Regions from separate parts of the Homo sapiens genome. Here region 1 is linked to region 2. The links come from fine-mapping of genetic effects on gene expression. Tissue or cell type: whole blood. Region 2 holds a variant in brackets; the other region holds the start of a gene. All regions are shown on one strand. Distances are between the middles of the regions.

Evidence for each region. PIP is the estimated chance that this variant, and not a neighbour inherited with it, causes the effect. A credible set is the group of variants that fine-mapping cannot tell apart.
Region 1: it holds the start of QRSL1, and the variant in region 2 is the best candidate, but not a certain one, in a credible set for the expression of QRSL1 in whole blood (TOPMed, PIP 0.90).

Annotation. Positions count from the first base shown.
Region 1 is chr6:106,627,414-106,635,209 of GRCh38, forward strand. It overlaps QRSL1 (glutaminyl-tRNA amidotransferase subunit QRSL1), which reads left to right and starts at 2,165. Exons shown (of 11, transcript NM_018292.5): 1 at 2,165-2,292. The coding sequence starts at 2,269. RTN4IP1 (reticulon 4 interacting protein 1) reads right to left here and starts at 2,085. Exons shown (of 9, transcript NM_032730.5): 1 at 1,335-2,085. The coding sequence starts at 1,608. RefSeq lists enhancers at 2,167-2,306, 2,337-2,396.
Region 2 is chr6:106,521,637-106,533,244 of GRCh38, forward strand. CRYBG1 (crystallin beta-gamma domain containing 1) reads left to right here. Exons shown (of 22, transcript NM_001371242.2): 5 at 3,497-3,544; 6 at 3,632-3,750; 7 at 5,669-5,834; 8 at 8,540-8,679. Among named protein-coding and RNA genes, the nearest start is that of RTN4IP1, 100 kb to the right of the region's middle. The variant T/G (reference allele first, on the strand shown) is at 5,766.

The DNA.
Region 1 (7,796 bases), 100 kb after region 2:
TTGTTATCTTAAGTCAGAACAAAAATATAAAAAGGCATAGAAATAGTGACTGAATGACAACTGCGTATGTGAAGCACTGAAACAGGTTGACAAAGCATGGGATCAATCTTGAAAGAACTTACAATCAAAGGAGATGAAAAAACATGCTGATCATTGAGTAAAACTTACCACTAAAAGACATATCTTATAAAAAACTGAATTCTCTTCAAGCCTAATATAAAAAGAATAAAGGAAAACGGCATGCCCAACTGGTAGTAGCAATTACTACTTCAAAACAAAGAATACAAACGTAGACTTCATGAGACAATCACAGTAAAGTCATTTCAATGCTTTTTTTTTTTTTTTTTTTTTTTTTTTTGAGATGGAGTCTCACTCTATCGGCAGGCTGGAGTGCAAGGGCGCGTTCTTGGCTCACTGCAACCTCCGCCTTCCGGATTCAAGCGATTCTCCTGCCTCAGCCTCCCACCAACACAGTGAAACTCCCGTTTCTATAAAAATACAAAAATTAGCTGGGTGTGGCGGCGCATGTCTGTAGTCCCAGCTACTTGGGAGGCTGAAGCAGGAGAATCGCTTGAACCCGGAAGGCGGAGGTTGCAGTGAGCCAGGAAAGCGCCCTTGCACTCCAGCCTGCCGATAGAGTGAGACTCTGTCTCAAAAACAAACAAAAAACCCCATAAATTCTAAACTGACTAGGAAACAACTATACTTCCGAAGCCTGTGACGGATCTCAGAATACCACAAAGTTCCCTGGACAGAAATTTAGCTACAAACATAGGCAGGGCGCAATGGCTCGTCTGTAATCCCAGCACTTAGGGGGCGGAGGCAGAGGATCGCCTGAGGTCAGGAGTTCGAGACCAGCCTGACCAACATAGTGAAACCCCATCTCTACTAAAAATACAAAAAATTAGCCCGGTGTGGTGGCATGCGCCTGTAATCCCAGCTACTCGGGAGGCTGAGGCAGGAGAAATTGCTTGAACCCAGGATGCGGAGGTTGCAGTGAGCTGAGATCAGGCCACCGCACTCTAGCCTGGGTGACAGAGTGAGACTCAGTCTCAAAAAAAAAAAAGTTAGCTACAGACACAGTTCTCAAGTCTGAACTTACATATTTAAGGACGCATGAAAACAATCAAGCTTATATTTTGTCAATACAAATGGCCAGAAGGATTCCCTGGCCATTGCAATTTCAAAAATTTTGGAAATATTTGCAGAGGTATTGTTAAAAACCTAAATGATTCATTTATGTAAACCAAAGAAGCGTAGTCAATTTTTTAAAACGGCATACCTTATGAAAGTGATTTTTTTAAAAAAGGTAACAATGTCTTTTGAAAACTTACTTCTCATATTAACGTCTATAGGATTTACACTGGCAGCGTGAACTTTGACAATGACTTCATTTGGATAGTGTATGATAGGCATCATCATGTTCTGAGTGAATCGAAGCACTTCATTCTTCCCATATTTATCTATCACCCAAGCAGGCATGACAGTGCTCCTAGGAGAGGTAGTACTAATCCTTCTAACTGAAGGCTTTTGGACAACTTTGCTTCTCCAGAAGCAAACCGCAGTGCATGCATTTCTTCTAAGTACACAAGTCTTCAGAAATTCCATTGTAAACACTGGTTGAACTGCGTGCTCAAATTCAAATACACTTGGACTGGATCAAACTCTCACCCCTGAATTCAGTCAAATTCTGCCAAACCACGGGCTAGTTTCAAAATTAAGCATGCAAAACGGAGCATTCGAAAATGAAGCTAATCTAATGGAGAAACTGAAAGAAGAATACGGAACTGTTATTCCGCTCTTCGCATATGAAATGCTCGAATTAACGTTCCAGTCAGTATTCTGTCCATTCTCCTCCCTCACTTTCACCCCCTCCACTTTAAAAAAAAAAGGGGGGGCGGGGCATTAAAAAGCAGGTGCGCAAACCCCCTAGATCCCTGCCCTGTCCTGGGAGCCCTCGGCGGGACAAGCAGACACCGCTCGCGATCCAACGCCAGAGAATCGAACGCTTGCCGACTGCCGCCGCGACCCTGGCCCGGAATCTCCTTGCCTGCCCGCTCTCCTTAGCCGCCGGGATGGCTTTGCGGCGCCAACCAATCGCCTACAAAGATCATTTCCTCGGGCTGCAATTCAACCAATCCAAGTACTCGGTGTTGAAGGGCTCAGTGACAATTAAAGATGGCTGCGCCCATGTAACATCACTAGCGACCGGTGACCTCTTTTTCCCCCTTGCCTGGCTCCTGTGGTGGCAGGCTGGGCACGAGGACCATGCTGGGCCGGAGCCTCCGAGAAGTGAGTGGAATTGGCCCGCTGAGGCCCCCGGGAGGGCGGAAAGTTTAACGGACTTCGTTGACAAAGAGTCCCTGGGCCTTACCACGCATCTTGGCCCACCTCGCTGCTTCCTCTAGAACTGAGTGGGGGATAAGTACCTTTCGATTCTTCGGGTGTACTCGCCGTACCCATTCAGGAGTTAGGACCTTAGCAGGGAAATCTCTGCACCGCGGATCTGTAGGGTGGTGAAGCGGCTTCTCACCATTAGACATTTGCTCTGGTGTAGGTCGGGATCCGGATGGTCTCGGAGTGGGCTTTGCCAAAGGGGGCTTGCGGGGCCACTTCAGTCTCTCTTCTGTCCCCGACACTTAGCTGCAGTTGTCGCTAAGAAGCCCGGCGAAACTGTAGTTTGCAAAATTCAAATGAGTAATTTTTGGCTTTTTTCAAAGAATTCGTTCTCTAGGATTTACCTACCACTAAGATACCAGTGATTTCCTAACCCGTGTCTCCATGTCCTGGACGTCGTGTTTGAATTCTAGACTGTATTTGTGAATGCTTTCTGGGCAGTTCTTCTAAATGTCACATAAGCACCCTCAAATTCACTTTAATCGGTGTTGAAGTAATCATTGTAACAGGACTTACCTCTCAACCCCCGTCTTAAAAAAGCTCTGGTATTTCTGAATTCTTAATAGACTCTTTTTAATGGCACAACTATTATCTCATTTGCCTTTAGATTCTTCCTCATCTTTCATATCCAATAAATCACTAAGCCCTCTTCATTCTATCTTGCAGATATGGCTGGAATCTGCCCTCTTACGTTATTTCTGCTGTTATAGCTTTAATTCGGGTCTTTTTGCTTCCTGGTTCACGTCACTCAACCTTAGAACTGTCTGCAGGCCCATTGCTATCAGAGTCACATAAAGCACCTGTTGAAACTAAAACTATGCCCCACTCTAGACTTAATTAGAGCTGTGTGGTAAGTTCGGGAGTATGGTTTAATGGAGGCTCCAGGTGATTTCTGGTAAGAAGTAGGCGCTGATGACCTAAACTGCCTTCCATCTTCCTTTTTATTCCACCCTAGAAGTTGTCGTTTTGTTTGTTTCCCAGCTGGCAGCGTGGAATTATAATTATAGATAGCTGTAATATATAATGAGAAATTGAAATCCACAGGCTTTAAATAATAGTTCTTCCCCCAAAATACATTATTATGTTATCATTTTAAATTGCGTCGAATCAAATTTGTTCTTTAAAAAATAAATATGCCCGGCGCGGTGGCTCACGCCTGTAATCCCAGCACTTTGGGAGGCCGAGGCGGGTGGATCACGAGGTCAGGAGATCGAGACCATCCTGGCTAACACGGTGAAACCCCATTTCTACTAAATATACAAAAAATTAGCCGGGCGTAGTGGCGGGCGCCTGTAGTCCCAGCTACTCGGGAGGCTGAGGCAGGAGAATGGCGTGAACCCGGGAGGCGGAGCTTGCAGTGAGCCAAGATCACGCCACTGCACTCCAGCCTGGGCGGCAGAGCAAGACTCCGTCTCAAAAAATAAATAAATAAAATAAAAATAAATAAACAGACAACACCCAAAACTTGTTTTAAAATTAAATACAACCTATAAAAATATGTTATTTCCTTTTTCTGCCTTTTCCACTGTCAATCTAAGTAACAGAAAGAGACTCTAAAGAAAATATTTATTTTGGAGTAGCAATGCAATGGGAATATGTGTAATATTGTAAACTATGTGCCTATTCAAGAAGGTTGAGGCAAGGGATGTTTTTAAAGACAGAATGAGAAGGATTACTTAAATTATTTTGAATCAGTTATCCTTGGCCACAAGGATCAGTCACAAAGGTGGCATCAGTCCAAGGTTGGATGGCCAGTTGCTGGACAGACATTCTTACAGAAGTACTCGTGTGTGTGGAAGGTTGCAATGGCCTTTGTGCAAGGTTGTGTTTTTTGCAGTCTTATGATTGTTTTTAAAAAAAAATTTTAATGGGTACATAGTAGGTGTATGTATTTATGGGGCACATGAGATATTTTGATACAGGCATACAATGCATAATAATCACATCAGAGTAAATGGTGTATCCATCACCTCAAGCATTTATCATTTCTTTGTGTTACAAACGTTCCAGTTATACTCTTTTAGTTATTTTTAAACGTACAATAAACTATTGTTGACTGTAATCACCTGCTGTGCTATCAAATACTGTATCTTATTCATTCTGTCTAACTATATTTTGTACCCATTACCCATCCCCACTTCCCACCCCTACTACTACCCTTTCAGGCCTCTAGTAACCATCATTCTACTCTACCTCCACGAGGTCAATTGTTTTCATTTTTAGCTCCCACAAATAGGTGAGAACATGGGAAGTTTGTCTTTCTGTGCCTGGCTTATTTCACTTAACATAATGCCCTCCAGTTCCATCCATGTTGTTGCAATTGACAAGCTCTCGTTCTTTTTATGGCTGAATAGTACTCCATTGTGTACATGTAGGACATTTTCTCTATCCATTCATCTGTTGGTAGATACTTAGCTTGCTTTCAAATCTTGGCTATTGTGAATAGTGCTGCAATAAACATGAGAGAGCAGATATGTCTTTGCTATGTTGATTTTCTTTCTTTTAGGTGCATATATACGTAGCAGTGGGATTGCTGGATCGTATGGTAGTTCTATTTTTATTTATTTATTTTTAATTATTTTTTTTTTAGAGATGGGGTCTCACTATGTTGGCCAGGTTGGTCTTGAATTCTTGGCTTCAAGCAATCCTCCTCCCTCAGCCTCCCAAAGTGCTAGGATTACAGGTGTGAGCCACTGTGCCCAACCAGTAGTTCTATTTTTAGGTTTTTAAGGCACCTCCATACTATTCTCCATAGTGGCTGTAGTAATTTACATTTCATCCAACTTTTCTCCATCCTCACCAGCATTCATTATTGCCTGTCTTTTGGATAGAAGCTATTTTAACTGGAGTGAGATGATATCTCATTGTAGTTTTGATTTGCAATTCTCTGATGATCAGTGATGTTGAGCACATTTTCATATACCAGTTTGCCATTTATATGTCTTTCTTTTGAGAAATGTCTATTCCAATCTTTTGCCCATTTTTAATTTGATTATTGGATTTTTTCCTGTTGAGTTGTTTGAACTCCTTATATACTTCGGTTATCAATCCCTTGTCAGCTGGAGTGTGATAGTTCTTCTTATCAGGCATTCATGCGTGAGAACCCTCTCTTCTTGACCTTCCTTGGCTCCATTTGTCAGGATTTTAACACAAGTCACTCTATTTTGATTTTGACAACTGTCATAGCTCCTTAAGTGCTACCTTTTTTAGTGCTACTTCTCTCTGGTGTCATTGAGTTAGCCATTGTGAAAAACAACTTTTGCCGCATGGGGGGAGAAAAGAACTATTTAGGAGAGCTGACCCAGGGGAAAATCCAGAGGTTGCCTTGGCATGATTGCTTTTACTTTATCACTCCTTTAACAAATACTGATTAATGCCTAGCATGCAAAATATTTGGTGGTTATTTCCCCAGCTCTAAAACTACCTTCTGTCTACTTTGTATTTTTTCCACATCACTGTACTGTTGCCCTAAATTCTACCAATTAGAGATTAATTAATTCATACAAATTATCTTTTAATTTAATTCTCTTTTAAATATGTACAGATGCCTGGGAAGGTTGAACAATTTTTCCACCCATTGTTGTAAATTATAACAGTTCAAATTTCTTCATAATACCTTAATTGAGATAATCAGTTGAAGAGGGGGAAATTTGCGGGGAATTAGGGAGAAGGGCTGGAAATGATGGCAGCAATTTGGGGGATGTGAGTGGAAGCTTATGGTAACAGGAGTCCTGGGAATAGGCACAAAAAGGAGGTAAAATGCCAAATAGGTAAAATTCCCATTTGTAAATTTTACCCAAGTACATTCAGAAAGGGGGAGGAAATCTCACTTTTACCTTTGTCTTTTGTGGCATGATCCCAGTGTTTCTAGGAGTGAGGCACCAGGCTAATATTATTAATCCTAAAGTTTAAAGAATGATATATTCATTTGGCTTCTTGGAGCTTCAACTTTAGAAAAACTAATCATTGTTCTATAGGGAAATCGATTCTAAATTTTAAACAACTGTTATTCATTCAACTAACATTTAGTGAGTACCTCTGTGTTCCAAGTACTGGGGGGTAGCATTAAAGACGGACAGAAGCTCCTGCTTCCTGAAACCTAACTTTTTTGTGTGGAAACGCAGCCATTAAACACTTTAAAAAAAAAAAAAAGTAAATGATATAATTTCAGGTAGTATGAGTACTATGGAGAAAAATTAAGTAGATCATAGTATGAGAACTAGTTGGGGGAGCTGGACATTTTAGCTAGAGTGGTCAGGGAAGATTTCTCTGATTGAGTGAATAATACTTAATAGAGACCAGAAGGGCATGAAGGGGGAACACTGGGCAGATCTGAGAGAATAGTGTTCCAGGCAGATGGAACAGTAAGTACAAAGACCCTAAAACAAGAGCAAGCTTAACATGTTCAAGGAATAGCAAAAGGGCCAATATGCCTGGAGAGAAGTGAATGAGGAGAGCAATGAGAGAAGAGGTTAGGGAGACAGGTAGGAGCCAAATTGTGGAGAACCTTTGAGGCCACAGTAGGGAGTATGGATTTTATTCCAAGTGTAATGGGAATCTTCTGGAAAGTTTTGAATCTGTGGACATGATCTGAGTTAAAATTTTAAAAGCTCCTTCAGATGACTCTTAAGGGACCATGATCTTTAGAAAAGCAAGTAATAAAGCACAAAGACTGACCGGGTGCAATGGCTCACGCCTTTAAACCCAACACTTTCGGAAGCTGAGGCAGGCTGATTGTCTGAGCTCAGGAGTTCAAGACCAGCCTAGGCAATGTGGCGAACCCTGTCTTTACAAAAAATACAAAAATTAGCTGGGCATGGTGGTGCATGCCTTTAGTCCCAGCTGCTCAGGAGGCTGAGGTGGGAGGATCACTTGAGCCTCGGAGGTTGAGGCTGCAGTGAGGCGAGATCACATCCGTGCACTCCAGGTTTGGCAACAGAGCAAGGCCCTGTCTCAAAAAAAAAAAGCAAGAAAGCATGAAGACCAATTAGAAGCCTGTTGCATTGGCGAGATAATGGGAGTGGATATTGTTTTTTAAGTCAGGGTTTGCAGATGTTTTGGATATGGGGTTTGAGGAAAAGAGAAGAATCAAGGAGGATACTTAGGTTTTGGGCTAGGGCAGTTGGGGAAATGTGACATCAAGATGGGAAAACCTTAAAGGGAACATGTTTGGAAGGGGAAGGTTATCAAGAGTTTTGTTCTGGATGTGTTAATTTTTAGATGCCTCCTAGATATCCAAGTGAAGATATCAGTTAAGCAACTAGATACAAGAGTTCAGAGCTCAGAAAAGAGGCTAGGTAAGAGGATATACATTGGCCAGAGTGTAGAAGATAATTAAAGCTATAGGGCCAGATGAGATTACCTGGGAAGTTGAGTGTAAAAATAGAAGAAGACCTAAA
Region 2 (11,608 bases):
TACTAAGAGTCTTCACTGAAGGCATCTGTAGTCTTGCAGGGAGATAAAGCTACAAATGCTCTAAGGCACATGATCTTTTTTTTTTTTTTTTTTTTTTTTTGAGACAGAGTCTCGCTCTGTCGCCCAGGCTGGAGTGCAGTGGTGCAATCTCAGCTCACTGCAACCTCCACCTCCTGGGTTCAAGCGATTCTTCTGCCTCGGCTTCCCTAGTAGCAGGGAATGCAGGCGCGTGCCACCACGCCTGGCTAATTTTTGTATTTTTAGTAAAGACTGAAAATACAAATACGGGGGTTTTACCATATTGGCTGGGCTGGTCTCGAACTCCTGACCTCGTGATCCATCTGCCTCGGCCTCCCAGAGTGTTGCGATTACAGGTGTGAGCCATCCTGACTGGCTGGCAATAAATCTTTTAAGGCACATGTGAATTTATATGTTGTATTATGAAAGGTATAGGTAAGCTTTTAGAGTTCAGAGACAGATGAGTTGCTTTTTCTTACCTATTCTATGTAAAAATGCTCAGTGCTATACTTAGAATTTTGAAGATTTGTGAAGGAGCTTCCTCTATTTGGGAAGTCCCCAGCCAGGGAAACTTTTTCTTAATCCTTCTCTCTGTGAGATTCACTCTTTGTTCCCATAAGTAGCAATAGGTGTTTATCCTATGCAATTGAGACAGTATTTTGTCTTTATTGGGAATTAGTTTTCATTAGGGAAATATTTTTTTTACCCTGCAAAGCTGTGGGGAATAAAGAATTTTGGTTTTCATTGGATCTTTTCTTAAATATTAGAGAGAAGACAGCAAAACATGATTTTGGGGAATAATTTTGATTTCTGCATCTTCTTTTATCTCACTTCAGAAGATGTTTACTTTACTCGGTTTTTGATGTGAATTGCGCCTTTTTGTTACCAAGCTTATTTAAGGTGAGAAAGGACTATGAGAGAGGAAGGTGGAATATATGTTTAGTGATCAGCTCTGCCAGGCTAGAAACCTGAGTAGGGTTTGTATTCTGGTGGTCCATCCTGTGAACCCGGCTGTCTGGCAAGTGTGGACCTCAATCCAACACAGTTTATCTAGGCAGAAAATACCTTGCACCTTTCCTCGTCTGTACAGGGTACTGCAGCATGGTTCAATGTATTGTATTGGCTTTTACTACAATCCTGTCAGAGAATGTGATGTTGCAAGCTCTTTCAAAATATATGGTTGGGTTTCCAGCAGAGGTGCAGATCCCTTTTTCATGTGATTTCATAAACTTTCATAAAGTTTGGGTTTCAGATGTTTGGTGTTAGGACCCTTTATGTTTAAAAATGATTGAGAACCCCAACGAGCTTTTGTTTGTATGGGTTCTGCCTATCAGAATTTATTATATTATAAATAATTGCTGAGAAAATTGTAAAACACCAGAAAGTAGAAGTGCACACTGCACCAGTGCTCAGAGCAACGATGTCATCACACATCATGGAGCCTTGTACTCCGCTGGACATTTGAGACAGAGATGAAAAAGGCAGGTGACCTCTTCTTATTATGAAAATAGTTTTGACCCCATGGACTACCTGAAAGTATCTTGGAGACCCCCGCAGTGGCCTCTGAACCACATTTTGAGAACCACTGCTATAAACAAATAAGACTGAATCAGCCTATGGTACTCAGAAATCATAAAATTCTAACTATTTCTATTAATAGTTATATAATAGAAATATTAACTATTTCTCTCAAGCACAAAATTTCCACTGGTCCACTTCCCATTCATTACTACTTTGTTCTTTTTAATTGTTCTTAGATCGCTTTCCTTATTTAACTACAGTCTGACAAAGTTGATAACAGAATATACAGTTTCCCTATGAAAATCAAGTCAAATGACATAAAAAGGAAAAATAAAATCTTTATACTTTTTCTAGGCCTTTTTATGATTAAAAAATATGGTCTTTCTTTAGGTCCTGGGCTTTTATTGATTGTATATTCAATCATGAAGGTTTTACCTGAATTTTGTTTTAAATTTTAGGCTTTTTCTTCAGTTTATCTACTTCTAATGTGTATATATACATAAATAGGTATATACCATCTGGCTTCTGATAAGGCTCTAGGGGGGCCCTTATGGCCTTTTTTTTTTTTTTTAGAGTCAGAATCTCGCTCTGTCACCCAAGCTGGAGTGCAGTGGCATGATCTCAGCTCACTGCAACCTCTCTGCCTTCCAGGTTCAAGCGATTTTCATGTCTCAGCCTCCCAAGTAGCTGGGATTATAAGTGAGTGCCACCACGCCCAGCTAATTTATGTATTTTTAGTAGAGACGGGGTTTTGCCATGTTGGCCAGGCTGGTCTCGAACTCCTGACCTCAGGTGATCTGCCCACCTCAGCCTCCCAAAGTGCTGGGATTACAGGTGTGAGGCACTGCGCCCCAGCCTTTTGTGGTCTTCTGGGCATATCACACTCTGGTGTGATGCAAGAGCAGTCAGAGCAAAGGCAGTTCCTAAAATAGGCATCCTGGTCAGCACTGAAAGTAGTTCACGTTTTGTAATATTTTTACATGTATAATTACTATTTTATTATCTTATGCATTTCTGGTTTTACTGGTCTTGTCAGATGGTCTTGAAAATGATTAGTTTTGGAGCCATATTGAAATGTATTTTGTCTATCAAAAAAGCGGGATTAGGCCGGGCACGGTGGCTCTCACCTGTAATCCCAGCACTTTGGGAGGCTGAGGCAGGCGGATCACGAGGTCAAGAGATCGAGACCATCCTAGCCAACATGGTGAAACCCCATCTCTACTAAAAGAAAAATACAAAAATTAGCTGGGCCTGGTGGCACATGCCTGTAGTCCCAGCTACTCGGGAGGCTGAGGCAGGAGAATCACTTGAACCCAGGCGGAGGTTGCAGTGAGCCAAGATGATGCCACTGCACTCCAGCCTGGTGACAGAGCCAGACTCCATCTCAAAAGAAAAAAAAGGGGGATTAAATATACTATGTGCAATGTACATTATGAAATATACCATATATACCATAAACACTTCTATTTAGACTAGTGGTTGTTATATGATTGTAGATTTACTATGAGAAAACAATATTTATATGGATTCAGATAGGGTATGTATATGAACACAAAATTGATTCAGCTCTTTCTAGGTAAGTGATTAATATATTCTAATTTATCTTTATTTGAGATGATACTGATATTATTTGAATTAGAATCTCTTAGCTGAGTTCCTATTCTGTGAACTGACATGAAACATATGTGCCCTGAATTTTCTAGCATTGGTGGAAATAGCCTAGACATTTAAATTAGGAGAAATTGAAATGGCAAATTCAGTTAGAGGTGAAAAAACCTCAATTTAAAAGCATAAACTCAAAGAGTTTTAATACAACTTTAGCATCCATTAGAGTGGAGGTTTCAAAATCGATACAATGTGGGAAAAGTGTGATCTACCTACAGGATCGTGGGTGGAAAAAGAGGATCGTTATGTGAAGTTGTAATTATTTGTTGTGTTTTTGTTCATCTGATTGCAGACACTTAGAGGAAGTGTCCAAAATAAACTCAATCCCCGACCTGGAAAGGTAAGATTATTTTCTGTTTCTAGTCTTGATTCTATTTTGGTCTGACAGAGTACAACAAAGTGTGCTACCACTTTCGTTTTCTTGCAGGTAGTGATATATAGTGAACCCGACGTCTCTGAGAAGTGCATTGAAGTTTTCAGTGACATTCAGGATTGCAGTTCTTGGAGCCTCTCTCCAGTGATACTCATAAAAGTTGTTAGAGGATGGTAAGAATGGCACTTTAAGTTCCTGATGTCAAGTGTTTGAGTTTTACATACTTAATTAACTTTTTAGTCCTCACTACTAGTTTAAAATTATGGCTTTAGCAATGAAAAGCACAGGAAATACTACTCGTGGTAAGATAAGGGATTCATATCTTAACAATGTCATTTTAAATCATGTTTCTGATTATAGCAGTGATATATGTTTATGGGAGAAAAATCAGAACAATACAGTAGAACAAGCTTCTTTTTCCCATGCTTCCCCATAATATTGTTTTGGACTAGTCATATATCAGGGCCCATAACATACTCTTGGTTGATGACCTTTAAATGAGGTTGATAAGAATTGCACTAGTTATGTTGATAGGCCAGATACGACTTTTCAAAAACCTATAAGGAAACTTGAGAACACGTAGGAAAAGGCAAAGTAAAGAAACAATAAGGAAAAAAAATCTATAAGGTAAAACAAAAATAATCTATAAAGAAAGGCATTTTTCTAACTTTTTAATGACAGTTCAATGCAGCACTAACTTAAAATTTAATTTACTTTCCAATATTTCCACAAAAGATTGTTTTGGCTAAGTAAAGAAACTGGTGAAAAAAATAAATATTTTGACAGTTTCTGAAATCATTTTATCAGCTTCATTGCCTCTTGGAGATACACAGGAAGTTGGGTAGAGAAAGGCAGCTTAAAAAAAGAAATCGCTGATCTGGCATAATAGTTATCTTTTGGTGCCTACTTGTAAACTTGTTTGAAGTAAAGAGGGTAGACCTCTGAATGTTTATGGATTTACAAATTCATAAGCTTTTCTTTTGGTCTCCATTTGATTAAATATGCAGCAGCTTTCCTATTAGATTTTTAGGTGTTTTAATATTTTTTCCTATATATCCAACATAGTCATGAGAAAAACAAGATTTGCTTTTATTCTTAAATTTGAAGACAAATGCTATTTTAATTGCTAGAGAATTGGCCACTAATATACAATATATAATAGTGGCAATTTTTTACACAAATTTTGTTTTTATGGAACAGTACTTTTTCCTTTCTTTTGCAACTTTTGTCGGCTTCTTTTTCTTGAAAGCATAAGCATTTACACTGCCATATATTGACATGAGGTTTTTCTTTAGTGTTTGGCTGTTGTTGGGAAGAATATTATTAAAATGCTTTCCATTACCATATCTATAGTCTTTTGTGCCAACATATTCATTGATATGACTGTAATATGTAAGTTAAAGTCTCTCTAAGAGAAATGTTTTCTACACATATAAGGAGACAAAAGGCCAGACATGGTGGCTCATGCCTGTAATTCCAGCACGTTGGGAGGCCGAGGTGGGCAGATCACTTGAGGCCAGGAGTTCGAGATCAGCAGGCCAACATGGGGAAACTCAGTCTCTACTAAAAATACAAAAATCAGCCAGGCTTGGTGGCACATTCCTGTAATCCCAGCTACTAGGGCAGCTGAGGCAGGAGAATTGCTTGAACCAGGGAGGCGGAGGTTGCAGTGAGCCGAGATCGCACCACTGCACTCTAGCCTGGGCAACAGAGCAAGACTCTGTATCCAAAAAAAAAAAAAAAAAAGAGACAAAAAAAAAAAAACCTAGTACAGTAAACATCCATTTATCTGACATATTATCATAAGTCTCTACCACTTGGCAATTACTTAGAACATTAGTAGCTCTATAGCATTCATATAGGTAACTCCAAAGTTCTCTAAGATCCTGATATAGTTCATGAGTTATCAGAGGCTTAATTATACCCAGTAAAATATTAGTGTTAGGGAGAGTTTAAGCTATTTTAATTGCTAGATAATTGGCTGCTAATATTCTATATATATATATAAAATGGCAATTAGCCAGGTTATTTGAGTAATCAAAACCTCTCTCACGAAGACTGACTAATGGTTTTGCTGTGTTTTATTGTTAGTTGGATTTTGTATGAGCAACCAAATTTTGAAGGGCACTCCATCCCCTTAGAAGAAGGAGAATTGGAACTCTCTGGTCTCTGGGGTATAGAAGACATT[T/G]TGGAAAGGCACGAAGAAGCAGAGTCTGATAAGCCAGTGGTGATTGGTTCCATCAGACATGTGGTTCAGGTAGGTTGTGGTAAATATGGATTTTATTTATTCAGCTAATATTTATGGATTCTTACTTTAAGGGAAATGATCATTTTACGAAATATGTGATTGGGAAACATATTTGGTGCCTTATGGATATATTTTCTGTATTTTAAGTATTTGTACACTTTAAATAATTTAAAAAGAAACATAATTGGTTAGATAATTTTTCACAATAAACCCTTTAGGTAGATCTTTTATGCCTGTCCTTCTATTCCCATCTTCCAAATATATTTTACCTGGTAACTTGGTTTAAATGAGTTCTGCCTCTATGAACAGGTTTTTCATTTATTTAGTGTTTTTGTTTGCTGTATGAGTTCTGATTACTTTGAGTGGTTTATAGGAATTCTATTTTGGAAAAATAAATAATCCAAAAATAATTTGGTTGATTAACTCTGGGATTTCATGTGGGTTTAACAAAATATTATTTACTCTATTTGAGGCCACTTTATGGGTGAGGTAAAATTTCTTGGTTTCTTGTTATTTGATGAGGAAAGTGTTGTCAGAGTCTTTCTTTGTGGCTCTTAGGATTTGATGATTCTTTACCTTAAAAATGCAATTAATGATGTCTTCTAAGTAGAAAATTAAAATCCCAAGTTTTAATGGAGACGAGTGTCAAGATGCAATACAGAGAAAAGGAACATTCTTACATGAGAATGAGTAAGGATGAGTAACAGTTTTGGCAGAGGAAAGCATCGCTTACTTCCTGAGTCAACATTTCTGAGTAACTTAGGTGGTAATTGGTATGCTAAATGATTTATCTTTTATTTGTTTTAAGTATATAATACGAGAAGACTAAGTAAGACTTGAGAAACCCTATTTCAAAATGTCCTCATTAGTGGAATATTTTGCCTAGAGTTTTTATTTACTGCTCAAATAATATTGGAAATAAAGCAATGTTTAAAAAGATCATCTGATTCCCACCATCATGAAGTGTCCCCTCCCCTTTTATTTTTTGAATTTTCTACCCTTTGTTGGCCATATTCTAGTCTGCTTTTTCTGCAGTAATAATCATAATACAGGTACAATGCTGTTCCACCCTTCTCACCTAACACTGTGGTTCTCAATCCTTTTTTTCTCTTTATACCACTTTCCTGAAAATCACACTCCCCTTGGTAACATCTTTGTGATTGGCAACTGGGGAAGGTATCAGAATCTGGTGGGGTGAGGATTTGGGTGCATTCAGGAAGATGGGGAAGGGAAACGAGATCTCTTGTTTTGTCTGATAATAGCAGACTTACTGTAGCAAATGCTTTTCATGTTACCACAGGTTTAGGGTTTAGCTGAATATCATATTCCATTGAAATGATACATTATTTATTGTTTAGTACATAAATGAGGTACCATTATTTATTTATTATTTCTTCTTTCAGTGAATCTTAAGGTTGTTTCTAGTTTTTTACTATTATAAGTAATGCCACGAGAATGTTTTTGTGCATTTAATAATTTATAATTTTCTTTTTTTTTTTTTTGAGACAGTCTTGCTCTGTCGCCCAGGCTGGAGTGCAGTGGTGCAATCTCAGCTCACTGCAACTTCTGCCTCCCAGGGGTTCAAGTGATCCTCCTGCCTCAGCCTCCAGAGTAGCTGGGATTACAGGCACATGCCACAACACCTGGCTAATTTTTGTGTTTTTAGTAGAGACGGGGTTTTGCCATATTGGCCAGGCTGCTCTCGAACGCCTGACCTCAGGTGATCTGCCCGCCTAGGCCTCCCAAAGGGCTGAGATTACAGGCATGAGCCACTGTGCCCGGCCAGTAATTTATAATTTTCTAATTTGTTTCCTTGGGGTACATTTTTCTGAATGGTGTCATGTTAAAGGGCTATGATATGTCATGGCTCCCAGTGTGTCATGGATTATATTTTCTTCACAGATCGTGTGCATGGTTTCTTGAAACATAAAACATAAGTCACAGCGTATATTTTCAAGGTTACCTTTTTAGCTCATTAGAGTTGTTCCTTTTGATAATATTTGAAAAGCCTCATCTGAGCTTATTCAAGTGTTAATATTTCTTCTGTCACTCAGTTCACCCAACTCAGCTGCATAGATGAGTTTCAATAAATATTCCATTAACGCTTAGGCACTGGACCAGAAGAGGCCTTTTGAAGACTGTTTGGACCACAGATATGCGGGGCATGGAACAATGACCAAAGTACAGAGATTTGTAAATCACTATGAATGTGTGCTTTTGCTTTTACGACTTAGATCAAACCAATATCATAGAGGTTTACTCAGTCAAGGAGAGTTACCACAAAGCAACAGAGGGCTTATGGACACAAAACAGTGGCTGAGGAAGACTCCAAGAGCAGCCATTCTACAGACTAGAGTCTCTGTGCTTGGATAATTATATCAGAGCAAAGGAACCAAAACCCCAGACCAAAGAGGACCAAGTGAGGATGAGAAAAAGAAATATATTCCAAAACTCAAATAAAATACATTTCTGATGATCTTTGCTTGAATGCAACACTGAGTTATATAACTAAAGCAAGTGTGTCTGCCCCGAAATAGGTGTATTATTAATTCATGGATGAAAACAGGAAAGGGCTAAAATGGCAGGTGCTCTGTGAAATGTGTTTGTAAATTTAAAGCTCATTTTGATTAGTTGTAAGAAGAAGAAGAATGAGCTTACTAGAGAGTGAAATACATGGTGCAATTCTTACTATCTATGCATCTATATTTTTTCAGGATTACAGAGTTAGTCACATTGACTTATTTACTGAACCAGAAGGGTTAGGAATCCTAAGTTCCTACTTTGATGATACTGAAGAAATGCAGGGATTTGGTGTAATGCAGAAGACTTGTTCCATGAAAGTACATTGGGGCACGTAAGTATTTTTTTTTCAAACAAATTTTAATGAAGTTTTTTTGTGAGTGTAGTACTGGAAAAAGAGGACTTAAGATACTCTGACTCTAATTTGTCATCCTGTTAAGTAATTATTAACTGTAAGGTATATTTTTATAAGGCACGTAAAATTCTGATTCTTTTGCACCTATGTTATGATTCATCTGTCTTAAAAACAGTATCGATTTATTATAGGAAATGGGGGGGGATTGAATTTTTTAATGTAAGGCTTTCCTTGTCACAGAGAAATCTGATTTATTCAAAGCTGAGTAGCAGATTATATTTTCATGGTGATTCAGAGGAGGTAATTCAAAGCACATGCCCCTGATATTTCTGGGGGGGGATGGAAGCCAACACACATGGTACTTCCTTGAATATTTTCACACAATGCTGGTTCAAAGCCCCTAGGAGGTTGGTTTCACAAATCACAGGAAACAGCAAGAATATTTTGAAGGAAATGGGAATACCTCAGATAGGGGAGAAATGAGGATAGAAAGTATAGACTGCAATACTGAAGAATGTGGTCTCCAAAGTGAAGCACAAAGCCCCAAGGCATGTGAAAGACATTCACTGAGATGCAGGAAAAAACACTAAAGCTTCTTTCTATTTGATTAAAGTCTCCACCTCTTAAGATTTTATTTTTGTATATGTTTTCTAATATGCATAATGTATTAGTTCAGTGGTAATGTATATAATTTATAAATATTCATATATTCAGAGAATGCTCAAATGTTTTTACTAATGGTTTATACAGTCAAAAAAGTTTACAGCCTGTCCCTAAAGTGGTATGGAGTATCTCTGCAGTGAACAATAAGGCACTCCTTAATCATGCTTTTTGCATTCTATTTATTACTAAAAGCCTTGGTTTGCCATTGTTCATATCTTAGAAAAATAATTTGCTTGTGTAAAAGGTAGGAATAGGATAAATTACAGATCATAGAATCTGATTTTTGATCCTCAGAAATGAGAAACTAAAAACTTCTAGGCAACTTAACAGGAAGTGTGGCTATTGAGAATTGGTAGCAGCTATCCTTGAATAGTTGGAAGGTGGTCATATAGAAGAGATATTAGACTTGCTCTCTGTTATTCCATAGGAGGTCCCAGGAAAAACCAGTAGAAATTAGAGAGATGGATTTTGACTTGACCCAGGGAAGAACTTTCTGATGGTTAATACAGTTAAAATGGAAGTGGGCTGCCTTGTTAGGTAAAGAGTTTCTCATCGCAGGGAGTACTCAGGTAGAGGATGGACAAGAATTTATCCAGAGCTTTGTAGGGAAAGGAAAGTATGAGTTAGGTACCTCCTTTACGACAGTTTGTTCATTTATTTATTTACTTTTAACATTTTGAAATATAAGACACCTAGAAAAAAGTTCACAGAAGGTAAATGTACACTTAAACAAATAAAGTGAGCACCCAAGTAGACACCACTTGAGCCAAGAACTGGAACATTACCAGCACCCCAGAAGCCCGATGGTATTCTTTCCCTATGGCAGCCCGTCTCAGAAAACAACCTTCCTCTCCCAGAAGAGTGAGAAAATAACAAGGGAGGACTATAGTGATGGTTCGTCAATATACAAAGGTGTAGTTACTAGGGCAGAATTTGGGGTGTAGAGAACAATATTAATTTAAATATCTCCTCTTGATGTATAAAGTTATTTTCCAAGGATAGTATACATTTTACTGCTTTTTAAATTATTTTTAATTGACACATAATAATTGCACATATTTATGGGGTACAATGTGAGGTTTTGATACCTGTATACATTGCATAATGATCAAATCAGGGAAGTTAGCAAATCCATCACCTCAAACACGTATTATTTCTTTGTGGTAAGATCATTCAGAATCCTCTCTTCTAGCTATTTTGAAATATAAAATATATTATTGTTAATCATAGTTACCCTACTGTGGAATAGAACACCAGAACTTATTCTATTATATATTTTTACCACATTTTCTTTATTCATTCATCTGTTGATGGACACTCAGGCTGATTCTGTATCTTGGCTATTACAAATAGCACTGCAAGAAACATGCAAGTGCGGGTATCCTTTGACATACTTGATTTCATTTCCTTTGGATATATACTCAGTAGTGAGATTGCAAGATCACACAGGAGTTCTATTTTTAATTTTTTGAGGAGCCTCTATACTGTTTTCCATAATGGCTGTGCTAATTTATATTCCCACCAATAGTGTGGAAGAGTTCCCTTTGCTCCACATCCTCACCAATACTTGTTATATTGTGTCTTTTTGATAATAGCCTTTCTAACTGGAGTGAGGTGGTATCTCATTGTGGTTTTGATTTGCATTTCCCTGATCTTGAGTGATGTTGAACATTTTTTCATATACCTCTTGGCCATTTGTATATCTTCTTTAAATAAATGTACTGTTTTTTGTGTACATTTTGAGTTATATCATTTGGTACCCCGTAGTCCTTGAAAGGCTCTGAAATTTTTAAAGGTGGTTAGTTTAGAAGTAGAAATTAGGAAAGGCTTTTATTTCCTCTGCATACCCTGTCTAAATATGACAAGAAATTGGGACTTTAACAAATATAAACCCAAAAGAGTGTCTATGAGATGTATTAAATATATTCAGTAAATCTGTTAATCAAGCATCTACCATGTGCCAGGTGCTTTTCTAGTCACTGGGAATACAGCAGTGAAGACATAAAATGATGTCCCCATTCTCCTGGAGCTGTCAGTCTAGCAGGAATAAACAACACAAATACATATATAATGTGTCAGATGGCAAAGGCTACAAGAAACATAAATTACAGAGGGGCAGGCATGTTGCTATTTTAGATAGGGTAGCTAGTAAAGGACTCTGGTGACATTTTAAGGAGGGACCGGCAGGAAGTGAGGGAGTCTGCCCTGGAGCTAGCTGAGGGAAGAGGGGCAGGGAGCCTGTCCC